2 separate regions of the Homo sapiens genome follow, and region 2 is linked to region 1. The links come from fine-mapping of genetic effects on gene expression. Tissue or cell type: whole blood. Region 1 holds a variant in brackets; the other region holds the start of a gene. All regions are shown on one strand. Distances are between the middles of the regions.

The links. PIP is the estimated chance that this variant, and not a neighbour inherited with it, causes the effect.
Region 2: TFB1M starts here. The variant in region 1 is fine-mapped to the expression of TFB1M in whole blood (TOPMed, PIP above 0.99). The same link has a PIP of 0.9 or more in lung.

The regions. Positions count from the first base shown.
Region 1 is chr6:155,249,953-155,258,141 of GRCh38, reverse strand. It overlaps TIAM2 (TIAM Rac1 associated GEF 2), which reads right to left. Exons shown (of 27, transcript NM_012454.4): 21 at 8,173-8,189; 22 at 7,121-7,229; 23 at 6,139-6,197; 24 at 5,089-5,194; 25 at 4,082-4,169; 26 at 3,569-3,723; 27 at 419-1,658. The coding sequence ends at 1,021. TFB1M (transcription factor B1, mitochondrial) reads left to right here. Exons shown (of 7, transcript NM_016020.4): 7 at 60-2,008. The coding sequence ends at 306. Among named protein-coding and RNA genes, the nearest start is that of CLDN20, 10 kb to the left of the region's middle. RefSeq lists enhancers at 3,211-3,784, 3,785-4,359. The variant C/T (reference allele first, on the strand shown) is at 4,363.
Region 2 is chr6:155,310,252-155,318,398 of GRCh38, reverse strand. TFB1M (transcription factor B1, mitochondrial) reads left to right here and starts at 3,915. Exons shown (of 7, transcript NM_016020.4): 1 at 3,915-4,103; 2 at 7,060-7,211. The coding sequence starts at 3,971. RefSeq lists enhancers at 3,101-3,150, 3,701-3,750, 2,832-3,822, 3,821-4,140 and a silencer at 3,571-3,650.

The sequences.
Region 1 (8,189 bases):
CATGATTTGCAGAATTTAAGTAAAATTCTTATTTTTCTGTCTGTCTGTCTTCCCCTCAGAATGTTATTCCCTGAAGCGCAGCGCTTGGAAAGCACGGGCAGGCTGTTAGAGTTGGCAGACATAGACCCTACTCTTCGGCCCCGCCAGCTCTCCATCTCACACTTTAAGAGCCTCTGTGATGTATACAGAAAAATGTGTGATGAAGACCCACAACTCTTTGCATATAATTTCAGAGAAGAACTCAAGCGAAGAAAAAGCAAAAATGAAGAAAAAGAAGAGGATGACGCAGAGAATTACAGACTCTAGCTGCTGCCTGGGGGCGAGCAGCCTACCAGATGTCGATTTGCACTACGTGGAGCTTCTTATATAGGTACTCTTTTGTCTTTACAGAATGACGATACAAATGCCAATGACCAGATGTGACTTATTTTCCTTTTACTATACAGCTTGGCAGAGAAAATAAATATCATCAAATAAGATACAGTACAAGCTTTCTTTTAATATATACTGTATAGATAGTTATGACATGTTTAGTATAAACAGCATCTATTACAATCTATCTTACAAAAATGAAGTATCTGCACATTTTGCCCCTAAACCACATTAAAATAACTTAAATATGCTTTAAATAAAGCAAAAACTAACAAACAGCTGAAAGAAAATGCCCAGAGGATTTTAAAAAATGGCCCTTTGAAAACTATTAATCACGACTTCCCCAGCCTTACTTTTTCCACATAACTTAATTATTAGAATGTAATTTTAAGGATCCTAAATCATTTGATACCTGCTCAAAGTGGATATAAACTAAGTAATTTACAGATTCTGACCAGTTTCATCTAGGTTTCTGATCCACAATAAATTAAAATAACTTAAATCTTTACAACCATTTTGTGGGAAAATGTATACTGCACAAAACCCAGGAATGAACAGTTTTTTTTTTTTTTTTTTTTTGCAATTTCCACTTTACCACCAGTTTAAAAGTAAAATGAGGAATTTAACCCATATCTGGATTGAATCATACTATGATTTTCCGTGGCTCTCTGTTTCATAAAAACACTCCTCACTGACAACAGATGTTAAACTCTGGACACTGAATTCTCGCTCTAGAACAGAATTTAGGTCGATGGTGGCATTTTCAGACTGACTGTCAAGGGACTGGTGACGGATCTGCGCCTTGAGCAAAGTTCCTCTGTCCCTCTTGGTGCTGTTGGCTTTTCGTTTAATGGGGCAGAAGTGCCCCCGGACCAGTTTGGGCTGCTCTCCTCCTTTCTGACCCTCACCCGACTCCGGGCCAGGCTGCTGCTCAGCCTCGGGGTGAACGTCTGGGTCCTCGGAAATCCTCAGTCTCTGGAACTGAATTTCGATGTCTTTAGTAGGGCTGCCCTGCTTCACAGTCTGACGGTGGTCATCATCTTCATCGCTCAGGATGTCACTCTCTTTGATGAGATTGTCGGCAAAATCTGCCAAGCCGGGGTGTGGGTATTTCCCGGGAGAAGTGCTCTTGGAGTCCTGCCTGCCCTCAGCCGTGGGGCAGCCGCTGCTCTGGGTGCCGCTGCTCAAGCTGCCCTCGTCAGAGTCCAGCAAGGTTCCCTTGCCAGTCTCACCGGTCCACTCGTTGCTGGAGGAATTCTTCAGGACTTTTAAAGACCTGGATGAAGCTACAGTGAGAAAAACACATTTCGCTGTGATACAGAAACAGGTTACACAATGTGTAATGTTTGCCTCAAAGCTTGTGTAAGATTTAACATTAAGATTTTATTTTATGATATGACTTCAGTTAGCAACTATCCTGGTAATTAGGCAAAAATGTAGCTACTGAAAACATGGACATTTTTGACTTAGGTTTACAGTTGTAAGTTAGGCAATTCAGCATTTTTAGATTACCAGAGCTCAATTATGTAAATAGAACTAGACACTAGAAACTACTACATGGGCTAAGATTCTTATTTTGCCAAGGAGTAAGTTGAAAAGTTAATTGGTAATAATAAATCTAGGCTCCTTTCTTTCACTAAGGTGCTTTGTAATTTGATCATGAAGATCACACCATATTCCTATGCATCTTCTCACCTTGTGGATTTCCCTTGCTGCTCAATTAAAAGTAGAAAATGCCCCTCCCCCCCCCTTTTTTTTTAAAGACAGTGTCTTGCTCTGCCACCCAGGCTGGAGTGCAGTGGTGTGATCTCTGCTCACTGCAACCTCCGCCTCCTGGGCTCAAGTGATCCTCCCATCTCAGCCTCCTGAGTAGTTGGGACTATAGGTGCGCATGATCACGCCTGGCTAATTTTTATATTTTTTTTGTAGAGATGGGGTTTTGCCATGTTGCCCAGGTTGGTCTCAAACTCCTGTTCTCAAGAGCTCAAGGGATCCACCTGCCTTGGCCTCCCAAAGTGCTGGGATTACAGGCATGAGCCACCATGCCCAGCCTAGAAAATGCTCTTTATCTCTCATATGAGAACTGTCTCTGCTGGAATTTCAAAACAACTTTCTGAAATTTTATGTTATAGGTGTGTGTGTGTGTGTGTGTAGTTCTGTTCTCTTGGATTGAAAGAAGGAAGGGAGTTCTCAGTTTTGGTGTTTCTACAAAGTAATAACAGCATGTTATTTTGATGGCCAGTTTATTTTGACAATGGAGAAAATAGTAAATATGTGGTAGATCTGAAGAGGTCACACTGATTTGACATGAAAAAGCGAAGTTTTACATTTTCTAAGCCTAAAAACAAGAAAGATAATAACAAAATAGTTAATGTAGAAATAAGGTTCTGAAAACTTAAGCTGAAATTTTAGAAACAAGCAGAAAGAACAACGTGATTTGAAATGCTTACTTGGTGCCCTATCGATTAAGAACGAGTATAAGAGGCCCCTTAACTTAGATGGCATTACATCCCAATCAACCCATTGTTAAGTTGATAATATGGAAAGTCGAGAATGCATTTAATGTACCTACTAACCACTGCGGCTTAGCCTAGCCTGCCTTCAGTGTGCTCAGAACACTTACATTAGCCTATGGTTGGGCAGAACACAAGGCCTGTTTTATAATTAAGTGTTGAGTATCTCATGAAATGTATTGAATGCTGCACTAGAAGCAAAAAACAGAATGGTTGTCTGGGTACTCGAAGTACGATTTCTACTGAATGTGTGTCACTTTCACACCACGGTAAAGTCGAAAAATTGTAGGTTGAACCATCAGAAGGTGGAGACCCTCTGTGTAAGGTTCTTGATCTTCATTCAGCATTGACCTTCAGGATGCCTGGCACTGTTCTGAGCACTGGGAATACAGCAGTGAGGAAAACAAAGTCCCTGGACCCATGCACATCTTAGTGGAAGAAACAAAATCGTACATTTGGACTATGTCAGCGGGTAGGAAGACAAGGGACTGGGGGTTGGGGGTGGCTGTATTTTACAGTAGAACGTCTGGGAGCAAGAGGCATGTTTAGGTTTCTTAAAAGGAGATAAAGGTACCTCGATGACTTACAAAGTGAAAAGTCACAGCTATGTTACAAGAGCATATATCCTTTTCAGAAGCTCATAATATTTTGTTGAATAAACACAAGGCTAGCAAAATTCTCACCTAATTTGGCCGAAACAGGAACTCGGTTCTTAAGAGGTACCAGGCGATCCTTACACGTTTTCTCCAGTGGTAATTCACACTTTATGTGACGCCTGAAGTTCTCCCTCAGAATAGAACGAATCACCTTAACAATGTTGGTTTTGCTTTCACTGTCACTGGGTGGGGGGGGAGAGAAAACAGCAGAAGTGTCCACAGTGTTCATCGTGCTTCCATTCCACGCCCGCCTGTGTTCCTGTGCCTTGCACCTGCTGGACCAGGCTGCCAGCCAGCCACCCAGCAGCAGTGCCATGTGGCCTCCCGTACAGAAGGAGGTGAGAATTGATCACTCTTAAGATTTTGATATTTATTTAATCAACATAGTCTCCTACTAGCGGCCTCAGTTGCCTTTTTCGGAGGGTGGGGAGTATGACCCTGATATCATCAAAATTCAGGAGGGCACTAAATATAAATTCCCTTAAGAGACATAATTCTATGTTATTTCTGTTGGTTTTAATCTTTGGAAGTCAGTCATACCTGCAACACAACTGAAAGATGGTTTCTGGCCGTCCTTCTATTTCTGACTTCGTATGGATCAGTTCCCATATGGAATTATTTTCTGTCCCTATGTAAAAGGAAATGGAAACAAGAGTCTACAACTTTGCCCAAAATGCTGTGGTTAAGAACACTTGTAAAGTTGAAATCTCATCAGTTAAGAAAGTCTAATATTCCCAGTCCTGGCTCATTTTCTTCTGTGGCTTGTTCTATGTATGATTTTCACAGTTACAAGAACTGAAATGCCTTTTGGTTACTTTTTA[C/T]ATTTCCTGCTGCAGATTTTCCTCCATCTGAACTGCCTTCACCCTCTCTCTGGAGCCCCTCTCTGGGGAAGAGGAGATTCAGTGGATCCTATTCTTCAACCTCCTTTGCAGTTTTGCCCTTTCCTTGGAAGGAACAGGAGCTGGGGTACTTGAGGTAAAAGAGGCCTGCCCCAAATGTGGTCATTTTCTCGAAAACATAAGCACTTCTGACAAAAGTTAAACAGAAGCCCAGCAGGTCACTGCATGACTCAGCCTGCTGGCCTCTTCTGTCACCAGATACCTGTCACCAAAACAAGGTTACTCTGGAAGGATCTCTGAACATTTTCCAGAGTCAAAGATTTTTTTCTTTTTATATCACCTACAGTACTACCTAACCTTAAGGAATTTTCTGCTATATTCTAAATTTGTAAAAACATAAATTTGTGGATCTTTGTTCTTCTAACACATTTTAGGGTATCAAGGCAGAAAGGAAAATGTTGAAAACTATTGATAGGGAAAATAAGGAAACAATGAAAGGCATTTGGCAAAGAAAAAGCTATCCACCAGCATTTAGTTTCTCCCAGAAGTCTGCTAAGGAACATCAAAACAACCTCTCTTGTCCTCATTTTCCTTGTCTATAAAATAAAAGGCACCAAAAATTATCCCCAAGGTCCTTTCTTAATTTACATTCCACAGTTAAGTCTACTAAAATGCTTTTTCTGGCATCATACTGCACGAAACAGTTACCTGCTGGATTCCCCAGTCTGACTTGAAGCGCGGAGATGGGGATCAACCAGCGGAATTTAAATGGGTCCAAGTCAGTAGAGTTGTGTGCAGGCCGGGAATTCGAGGGCTGTAACATGAAGGCCCACCAAGAAAAGTGTTAGGGAAGCTGTCACTGAGGGAGGATGTGTGCACAGTGAATAGAAGTTTATGTTCTCCCTGTGGGCGAGTCTCCGAGCAGCCATGTGGGTGTTCAGGGCACAGAAGTCAATCAGCTACGCACCCAGTTCTCAAAGACCTCACATGCTAGGGAAGGTGCGGAGGCAGAGTTGTGGTTCAGAAGCAGTTACAGGTCTCAAAGCAAGAACAGCAGCCAAAGCTTCCACGCCCTGACGCTGCCTCTGAATGGTAAACCAATGGCATATGGTATCCACAGCTAGGCTTTGCTTTTTTCTGAGTGAAGGTAAAAGGCATTTGAAAATAAACCAAAGTTTCACAGACTATGTTTATGGAACAAACATGGGCCATTTTCAGGGATATAAAAGTCGATGTTCTATGTAGGCCCCCATATGAGTATTTATCTACTTTATTTACTTATTTATGTATTTATTGACAGGGTCTCACTCTGTCGCACAGGCTGGAATGCAGTGGCATGATCAAGGCTCACTGCAGCTTCCACCTCCTGGGCTCAATTGATCCTCCTGCCTCAGCCTCCCGAGTAGCTGGGACTACAGGCACGTGCTACCACACCCAGTTACTTGTATTTTTGGTAGAGGCAGGGTTTCACCATGTTGGCCAGGCTGGTCTCAAATTCCTGGGCTCAAGCCTCAGCCTCCCAAAGTGCTGAGATTACAGGCATGAGCCACCGTGCCCAGCTGTATATCTTCTTTTAAAACAGACATCTTTCATGGGGAGACTCAGAAACGCTCTCAGTATGTGATGGGGTTAGTTACCCTCAGAGTAAGCAGTATCAGTCAGCCCAGCCTTGGTGCTCAGTGGGCTTTTCAGTTCAACGTTAATAGGAAGATACAGCTATGAAAAGGTAGCTTAAATTAAAATGAATTTTTGCCTTACCAATTTCTTTTTCAGTTTGCAGTTTTCTTTATAAACCAGTATGACGGCTCTCTTAAAAACTAAAGAAAGGAAAAGAGAAAGAAAGTCTTTATTTTATGCAAACTCTTCCAAGGTTAAACTAGAGCTGAACGTCTTAACAGAGTAACACTCTCCAAACGTATGAGTCTCTAAGACCTCACTCTGCCAACATGAGTGAATAAATGGTACTTCCCTTTCGCTCATATTTGAACTATGCAGAAGCACCTGCTTATTTAAAAGCTACTATTAGAAGTTGATCTTGGCTTTTTTAAACTCTTTGTTTTATTGAAAGCTGAGGACACTGTGTTCATCTCAGTGACAATATACTGTCACTTGTTCTCCCAACTCTCAGAATTAAAACATTTGAAATACAGCAGACTATTAAGATAGCAGGTTTCTGGCCAGGCACGGTGGCTAATGCCTGTAATCCCAGCACTCCAGGAGGCTGAGGCAGGTGGATCACCTGAGGTCAGGAGTTCGAGACCAGTCTGGCCAGCATGGTGAAACCCCATCTCTACTAAAAATACAAAAATCAGCCGGGCGTGGTGGCGAGCACCTGTAATCCCAGCTACTCAGGAGGCTTAGGCAGGGGAATAGCTTGAACCTGGGAGGTGGAGGTTGCAGTGAGCAGAGATCACACCATTGCACTCCAGCCTGGGCAACAAGAGCAAAACCTCGTCTCAGAAAAAGAAAAAGAAAAAGATAGCAGGTTTCAAAATAGCCGCAGGGATCTGTTCCTGTAACACTTGGCCTGAGCCAAGCAGCAGAAGGGAGAACAAGATAATGAGGATGCAGAGCGATGCCGGAGTTTCAAATAGTTGGGGGCTGGCCCTGTTAAGTCCCCAACCATTATAGCAATTCTGACTCCTGGAGCTCAGGAGTGAGCTGGACTGGTGCGGCTAGTGAAGTTCTTCCGTAATCCCAGCCTCTGTTCAGTCTGCATTCTTCTGAATGGAATACTAACCAAATACTGTGAGCTCAAGGTCCTTTCTAGCTTTTCCTAGAGACAGAAATGGATTCAACCAGGAAACCGTAGAGTGCATCAGAAGCTCTCCCATCGAAAGTTCTGTTACCTAGATTGTAAAAACAGGAGGTAAGGAAGATACGGAAATCCCAGGCTAGATGATCTCTTGTTAGATAGTGATGTACACACAGTCATTGCTAAAATGCAAGCACAGCTGGTTTAATTTTTATGATACCTGTAAACATGGGGCCTTAAACGGTGGAGCTTTTGAAAATATGAGTTAAGCACCCAAGTGTCTGATGAATAACATAAAGGTGAAGGCATTTTGCTCCAGTGCACGCACATGTAGGTGAGACATGCCTTGTGACCAACTCAGTTTCCATAAGATGAACTCTACCAGTGTCCGTGGTTCTTCCAGAGTGCCTTTTGTAAGCTTTCCCCTGGGATCTAGTACATCCATCACCTCTGAGCTCCATTCGGGCTGCTGATAAAAGAGCACCAGCATTGAAACTGGCCAGAGTGAAGGACTGATCTCCAGTCCTTTCCTGTTCCTGCCATTTTCTCCCTAAACTATGCTACTTCCTGCATGCTGGCTTGAGAAGCACAAGATTCTAAATTAAGCAATCAGATAAAAAGGAAAAATACAGAAAATGTCAAATCCTGCTTGGACTAGTTTTATAAGTAAGCAGGTAACCACCAATATTTGATGTTAAAAAAAAAAAAAAAAAAAGGCAAAATCAAAAAGGAAAAGCCCCAGACTCCACATGCCAGTTCCCATGTCCTTTCTCCACCCCACCCTCTGCCAGCTCTCACCCTCCATGGATGTTCCAGACAATGTGAACGTGACATAAGGTTATATTTTAAACCAGTGTAATGAATTTTATGATATGTCTATATGTAAATTGTGTAGTTCATTAGACACATTGTTATCAAGAAAAATCTTAGGCATTTTCTCCTCCAGGAAAGTCCTAACAGGGCAGCCTATCTAGAAGGTCACCTACAGACCCCACACCACATGCACTAGGCTCCCAGGGTGCAGATGTCTCACGGACCTCCTTCTCTGTTCCGC
Region 2 (8,147 bases), 60 kb before region 1:
CAATAGAATGTATGCATACCTTTCATATGCACTGGGAAACCAAAAACTTCATCTGTCTCACTTTATGGAGATATTCACTTTATTTTGGTGGTCTGATACTGAACCCATAGTATCTCAAAGGTTTGCCTATATAATAAAGGCTAATTCGTTTATAATGCTGTTAGCATATTTTCTTCATTCACAAAAAGGTTTGCTTACTGTATAGGAAAAAGCCCTACCCATAGCTCCCTGAGTCGAACGAGTTGCCCATCCTCAACATCTTATTAGGATACTTGGCAATAATTCACAGACCTTTGGGGACAATGAGCAGGCTTTCAAATACTGCTTGAAACAGGGATAAACGCTGTATTTTCAAAAATAGTGTAAGTGTTCCATGGTTCCCTCAGGCAATTAGCTCGTGTTGTTGCCATAAGTTGCCCTACTTCTATCCCCACAGAATAAGCATTTGGTCCGTCTGCTCAGAGTTATCACGTTTTTCCTTCTTCCCTCTAGGTAGGTCACTAGATTCCTTTGTGAATGAACAGTGTGCATCAAAGAGCCATTAAAACAAAAAAAACCCTAAATATGTGTGAAATGCAGCTCTTAGTATTTCTCTGGAGCATTGAATCATATTATATGTAATTATAAAATACTATCGGAAAAGGGCACTTTACATACCATAATAGTCATTTTATAAAGTTCAATTTGGCAATTCCAAGCCACATTTAATTTTCTCTGAAAATTCCCACATGGCAGGAAGATATTGCTCTCTGCAGCTTTCAAGTCTCTTTCAGGGAACGGTAAAATGACAACCTTTTAAAATTAGCACTTTTTCTATAAATAGAGACTAAATCACTTATACCAAATAAAGTCACATATGCATTTTTATTAAAGTAAATACTAAAATAATAAGTAATTTTCCTACATAATCATTTTGGGATTTTACGCAAATTAGAATACTACAATATAGTTTAGCATGAATCATTTGTAGTTCTTCATCTTCACTGACAGGTGGGGCTAGTGATTTCTGTATTAATTATAATATTTTAGCATATTAAAATCTGTATCTAGATGAAGCAGACACTTCAAAGCTTCAAAACTGATGAAACTGCATACCTCTCTTTTAAGGGATAAAACCATTTGCATTAATATGTGAAATACACTACTAAAACACCCCCTGCTGATTTCTTAGGCTTTTGCAGGGAGTTATGCATAATTTTCTGAAAATTAAAAACTGAGGATTAGATATTTATGATAAAAATTGGATCTCAAGAACTATTAAAAACTTGGAAGATTCTCCTAAGCTAGAATTTTTAACTCAGTTAAAAAATTATTTAACACGTATCAGAGGTTAATAAAAAGCACAGTGCAGTCAGAAGATCTAAACTCAGTTACACCACTTACTAGCAAAGCACTGTGCTATGGTCTGAATGTCCCCCAAAATTCATGTGCTGAAACTAAATCACCAATGTGATAGTATATTGACAGGGAGGCCCTAAGTGGGTGATTAATTGATTGAGGTAGAGCTCTCATAAATGGGATTAGCAACCTTATGAAGAGCTGGAGGGAATTAGCTAATCCCTTTTTGCCCTTCTGCCTTTGGACATGTGAGGACATGACATTCCTCTTTTCTGGGGGATGCAGCAACAAGATGCTATCTTGAGGTAAAGAGAGCAGCCTTCACAAGGCAACAAACTTGCCAGCTCCTTGATCTTGGACTTTCAGCCTCCAGTACTGTGAGAAGTACATTTCTGTTCTTTATAAATTACCCAGTCTCAGATATTTTGTTATAGCAGCAGGAATGAACTAAGACACATCTTTGTGAACCTACATCACAGAATTGAAATGAGAATTAAGTAACAAAGGAAGCTGCTTTATAAATAGGTTCAGTTATTGAAGATGGCATGGTATAAACCATCCATAAATTCATATTTAGATCTGGGGACAAATTATCAGGAATCTACAAATTCTCCACGCAAAGGTGTTTCACTCATTTAGATTTTAGTTTGTTTTTATGTTGATGTTAATCTTTTAAAAAGCTCATGTGATTATATTTGGGGTCATCTGAACATCCTCTTTATACCTGTTACACAACGTGTGTGTTCATGGTAGCATTAGTGCCAAATAATTCAAATTCACTTGTTTCCAAGCTACTGAAAACAGATGCAGGCAGACTTAATATGTAGCTTCCATATTCTTCCAAAAGAAAGACAAGCGACAATGGAAAAAAAATTGAACAAAGATTTGGTAATAGTTTGACTCCAGAAAACTAATGAGAACATTCAGTCATTACATGGCACACTGGATCACTGGTAGGCTGAAACTTAAAAAAAAAAAAAAAAGAAAACCTGCCAGTTAGCACTAAGTGTCGTGATTTAACAGTGTTCATCCTTGTCAATTAATAAGACCATTTGTATTGGTTTTGTATATATTTATTGCAATTGTTTTAAATAGTCATATGAAAACTGTAAGCTTATGTTTACACCTAGATTCGTATTTCTATATATTTAGATGTTACAAAATTAACACATATTAACTTAAAAATAATAAGCTGATACTTGAGTGTGGCCAGTGAGATCAGAACTCAGAAAAAACACAACTCAGGTTGTCTTCTCTCTGTACTTTGCTGTCTGACTCTGGGCATTGTCAAATGACCTCACCTCCCCTATTTCTTCACAGCAAACTAAGAATAATAATCTCATTCACATGGGACCATTGTGAGGAGTACGGGAAATAATGAATATAACTGTGAAATAATGCTTTGTCAGGTATACTGTGTTTTGGACGATAAGATATCTGAATCAAGAGTTTGTACTTCCAGTCTACATTTTGATGCCACGTTGGGCAAATCTCCTTACCTCTATGGTAGTCATCACTATTTTTTAAAGCTAGGAGATTATCTCAGTTCCTTTTAAAACAGCTTTTATAGAAGGTGGTTGAGTTTTCCACTGGAATTTCAAAGTACTCCTCATTTTTATATCCATACCCATAGTTGTTTCGTTTTCCATTAGCTTTTTTAAAAACTTACTAATTGAGGAACAGAAACTTTAAAATTCATTTGTGATCAACGCAGCAATGTCCAAACATAAGCAGGGTTAAAACAGCAAAATTCTCCCACCTATCAGAGAAACTTTAATTTTTTTTTTTTTTTGCTTCGTTGTTTTTATCTCGTATAACGGAAAGACAGAACTCATATTTCAGTCTTCTCTCTGTTCTTAGCTGTAATCCTAGCAAATCGAATGACCTCTTTACACTGGCCAATTATTCATCTGCCAAATAATAACAGCCACCACTGATCACGTGGGAGCTTACCCAATGCCATGCGTGCACTATGTTCTGAACGTGCACACCAGGCGATCTCTCTCATTTAGTGCTCACAATTTTGAGGTAGACATTAGCTCCATTTAACTGATGAAAAAACTGAGGCTGAACGAAGTTAAAAACCCATCATGCAGCATCTGCAGAGCGGCGGTTCTAAAAACGCCTCACAGTAAGAAAGAATTGCTAACAAACAGTAGCTTTGCCTCTAAGCACCCGCTTTTCCTCTAATATTCACAGACAGGTATTTAGAACGTTAAAGAGCCGGAAGCCCTTGGGAACTTCAGGGCGGGAGTAAACCGGCTGCACCTCTCAGAGCAACTCCTCCGAAAAACCCCACCCTGTCCAGGCCCCGCCTCGTCCCGCCCTCCTGGGCGCTCTCCCCATAGCCCGCCCAGGAGAAGCCTAGTCCACCCGGCTCTCCCCCGGCTCTCACAGGCGGAAGCCGCCGACCACCCAGCCTGCCCTTCTCGCGGCAGGACTTAGCGCATGCGCTCTCAGCACGCCGGGAATTTCCTGTCCGCGGTCATCGCTTCCGGTGGGATAGGTCTGACCAATGGGGCTGACTCCGAGGCGGGCCTTAGGTCTCGCAGGTTCCTCCCCTGCGCGTTTCTTTCGGAGCGGCGGTGAAGGTCCTGGGTGAGGTAGGGTTGGATGGTGCTTGCCGCGTATCATGGCTGCCTCCGGAAAACTCAGCACTTGCCGTCTCCCTCCGTTGCCCACGATTCGAGAAATCATTAAGTTGTTAAGACTGCAAGCAGCGAAGCAGCTATCACAGAATTTCCTCCTGGACTTGAGGCTGACAGGTGGATGGCTTAGCAGTGCTCCCCGGATGTCTCCCCAGTGTCCGTGGGGGCGTGGGCCGGGGGGTCTTGCACGTCCCCGCGGGCGGGTGTCCAGGCACTGGCGTGCGACGGGCTTTTGGTCAGGTCCTTCGACCTCTTTGTATCAGAACTCCGGTCCCACCGCCCAGGAGACACGTGAAGTGCGTTGATTGCTCACAAAACTCCGCGTTCGGGGGGGTGTAGCCTGCCGGCAGGCTGCATAAATGCCAAGCTCCCTAGGGGAGGAAGGGTTCATGGGTCGTGAAAGGCGCTAGTGAATATTGGAATCTGGGTCACTGTGAAATCAATCATTCTGAAATAGTACAGCACATGCTGACTGCAGTTGCTTTACATGCAGTTTAAAGTTACCAGAATTTAAATTGATGCGAGGATTTTATCAATAACTTGGTGAAAAGAGTATCCCTCGTATGATTCGTTTTTTAAACGTTTACCTGTTCAGTCTAAGCCTCGGGGGCGCTAATATTCATTCATAAGTACATATTACACAAGCAACATTGTGCTAGTGCCGGGGGTAGGATATGGGCGTGAACAAGGCGGTGTTTCCTCGAGGAGCTTACTTTTAGCAAGTTTACATTCCCACACCTAATTGTTTAAAGTTACTTTTTATGAGATATAATTTATGTGCAATAAAATTAATAAGTTTGAAGTGCTCAATTTGATGAGTTTTGACGAATGTATTTATATATTGGTTTAACCACCATCACCATTGCTTAGTGATGTTCTATGAGATGAGGTTGCAAAAATATATTACAAATACGTCTACTAAGTCACGGCTGGAGTACTTAGGTTTTGAGATTTTCATATTTCATTCTATTTAGTCCCACTTCAGAAGTTGAAAAGAGCAGTAAATCACACCCAAAAAGTTCATTTTCACTTAAATGAAGCACACTCCAGAAAACATAAAATGTTTTATTTCTTGGACATGTAGTCTTTATTCTGCCTGTACCAATATGACTTTGGATAAAATAATTTAACTCAAGTTTTCTCTTTTTTTTTTTTTTCTTTTTTTAAGATGGAGTTTCACTCTTGTTGCCCAAGCTGGAGTGCAATGGCATGATCTCAGCTCACTGCAACCTCCGCCTCCCCGGTTCAAGTGATTCTCGTGCCTCAGCCTCCCAGGTAGCTAGGATTACAGGCGTGAGCCACCGTGCCTAGCTAATTTTGTGTTTTTAGTAAAGACAGGGTTTCACTATGTTGCTCAGGCTGGTCTCAAACTCCTGATCTCAAGTGATCCACTCGCCTCGGCCTTCCAAAGTGTTGGGATTACAGGTGTGAGCCACCATGTCCAGTAGTTTCCTCATCTTTTAATTGGAAGAAGGGCCTACTACTTTAAAAGATTGCCCACTCTAAAATTCTTTGGTTCTAGTAATAGCTAGTACCAGCCTTTTCTGCTTGTTATTAGCCACATTCTAAATATAAATCACCATTCTCAGGGCAGAAGTTATAGGTCTGTGTATTTTTTAAAATCCTTCAAATACATTTTCTCATGAGCCTTTATCTTCAGGAGTAAGTTTCAAATTCTAGATATTATCCACTCTTTCTATGGGAACCAGAGTTAACGGAGATGAGGGTACTTAGCTGAGGTTAGAAGCTCAGGCAGAAGAGAGCAAGATTGAAATCCAAGCTCATTGATTTGATAGCGCTTCTTTAATATTCATTTGTATTTCAATGTGCCTGAAAAGTTTGAGAGCAGAGACCTGCCTACTGTTGTAGCTCTCCATTTTAAAGAAGGAGAGTATTAAATTTATTCCATAATGTATCATTCCTGTTCCCTCTGAGAGGCATTGGCTTTAGGATTTATACCTATGTTGAAGTCCATGACCTTGTACAAATAAAACAATAGACAAGGAAACTGAAAAGTTAAGAGAAATGAAATTGGGATAGGAGTCCTTGGTTAACATGTAAGGATTAGGTGAGAATGTGTGTAAATCCATCATAATAGATAAGATGGTCAGTGGATGCTAATTCCCTCCCTGTTAAAAGACTAAACCATTTTTGGATGGCTGAGAAACTAGTTTCCGCATTTTAGCTGACAAAGTTATGTTGTTGAAAACAAGCAAAAATAGGACTGTGAACACCTACAAGAAGTGCTGGTATGTTTTTAGTGACTAAATTTCCACTATCCTAGGAAGACCAGTTCCTTGGATTTCCATATCTCAGAATCACTAAGACCAGCCCATTGCATGTTTTTCCAGATGTGATGACTGGTTGCACAGAGTCAGTACTCTACCTTTTTATGATGTCTTAAGGGCTGCTAACTTGAATTTGATTAATTAAAAAATTAATTTTTCTGTATTAACATGCATGTGTGCAAAGCTTTAAAAACCCTCAACTGCTCAATTTAACTTTTTCCTGAAAATGACTAAGAATTCAAATTTCTGAAAATCTTACGATCTAAGAACTTATTGCCATTGCCATAGTGACCACCACCAAGATGTCTCTAGATAAAAATAAGACTTCAGCACTTTTTGCTTTTGGATTTCACTAGCAATACTGAAGATTCTGAATGTGAAACTAGTATTGCTTATTCAGATATTCAATGTTCAATAACTATAGAAAAGTGCTGCATTCTTATCCAGTCTGTTCTTAGGAGTCGGTTGGTTTCAAATCAGTTTGAAAGGAATTTGCATGGGACAGATGGAAACTACAATATTAGCTAAATTTAAGCTAAGAAACTTTGTCATGATAATCCTGTGTGTGTTAAGGGACTGGTACAGTTCAATGGTGATGTGGTAGCATATTCGATTGCCACTTCATGTTAATTTAGGTAGAGAGTTAAATAGTCAAATAAATATTATACATAAAGGATCAATTGATTGGGTAATGGCTGAATTTTTATAGAAGATTTTTCTCTCTAAATTTCATACGTTGAAATTTGCCAAGTTAATTGAGATAACTAAAACTCTTTTTCCTCTAGATAAGATTGTAAGGAAAGCTGGCAATCTGACAAATGCTTATGTTTACGAAGTGGGCCCTGGGCCAGGGGGAATCACAAGATCTATTCTTAATGCCGACGTCGCTGAACTTCTGGTGGTTGAAAAGGACACTCGATTTATTCCTGGATTACAGGTGAGATGCTTAAAGTGTCTGCTTTAGGAGGCAAAAGCTGAATTTAAATCTTTATGCCATGATGCTTAAACCCCAAGGTATCCAAAGATTATGTAGGTTTTTCCTCAACTATAGATCCCCAAGGCCCCATTCCAGAGATTTTGATTCCATAGTCTGGAGAAATCTGGAAATCTCCATTTTTAACAAGCACTCTCAGAGGGTCTATTGACTACACCTTGAAAAAAACCTGCTTTAAGCATTTATGCTAAACAAATTAATTGTTTTGTGTGATTTTTTTTTTTAAGTCTGCTAATAGCTATGCATGTCGTGGCCCATTCCTTCAAAAATAAATAAAAATAAATAATGGCCAGTAATGACTCATTGGTATGACTTTTGAGAACTTCATTTAGGTTCAAAAAGCATTTCCACAAACAAAAGATGAGTAAGACATATGCACGTTTGTCATCATGAGAGACTAATTATGAAGCTTAAGCATTCTTTTATAAGGTAAATTTTTTAAGTGAAGGAAGGAAGTTGTACTTTTATAGATTTAGGATGAGGTTTAAATGAAATGATACATGCATCTTTAAAATACAGGCACTGTTATTGTATAAGAAATGAGAGTTGAAGGAACTGGGCATGTTTCAACTGGAGAAAAGAGGCCCTGGGTAAGAGTGTATATAGCAGCACATCCAAGGTTGGGGGTACATAGGATAAGCTTGTTTTGATCTTTTCTAAGAAAGAGCTAAAACAAATAGATGGAAATTGAGGGAGGCAGGATTGAGGATTTGAAATAAGGAGGAACTTACTTTTTTTAAAACGCTGGCAAACAGTGAAATAGATTGTATCAGGGATCTTGTAAAGGGATTTCCTCATAGGGGAACACTTAATGTCTTAAAGGCCTTTGATTCCTCCATAATTCTAAAATTTTAAAAGAGTCCTGAACCTTTGGCTCAG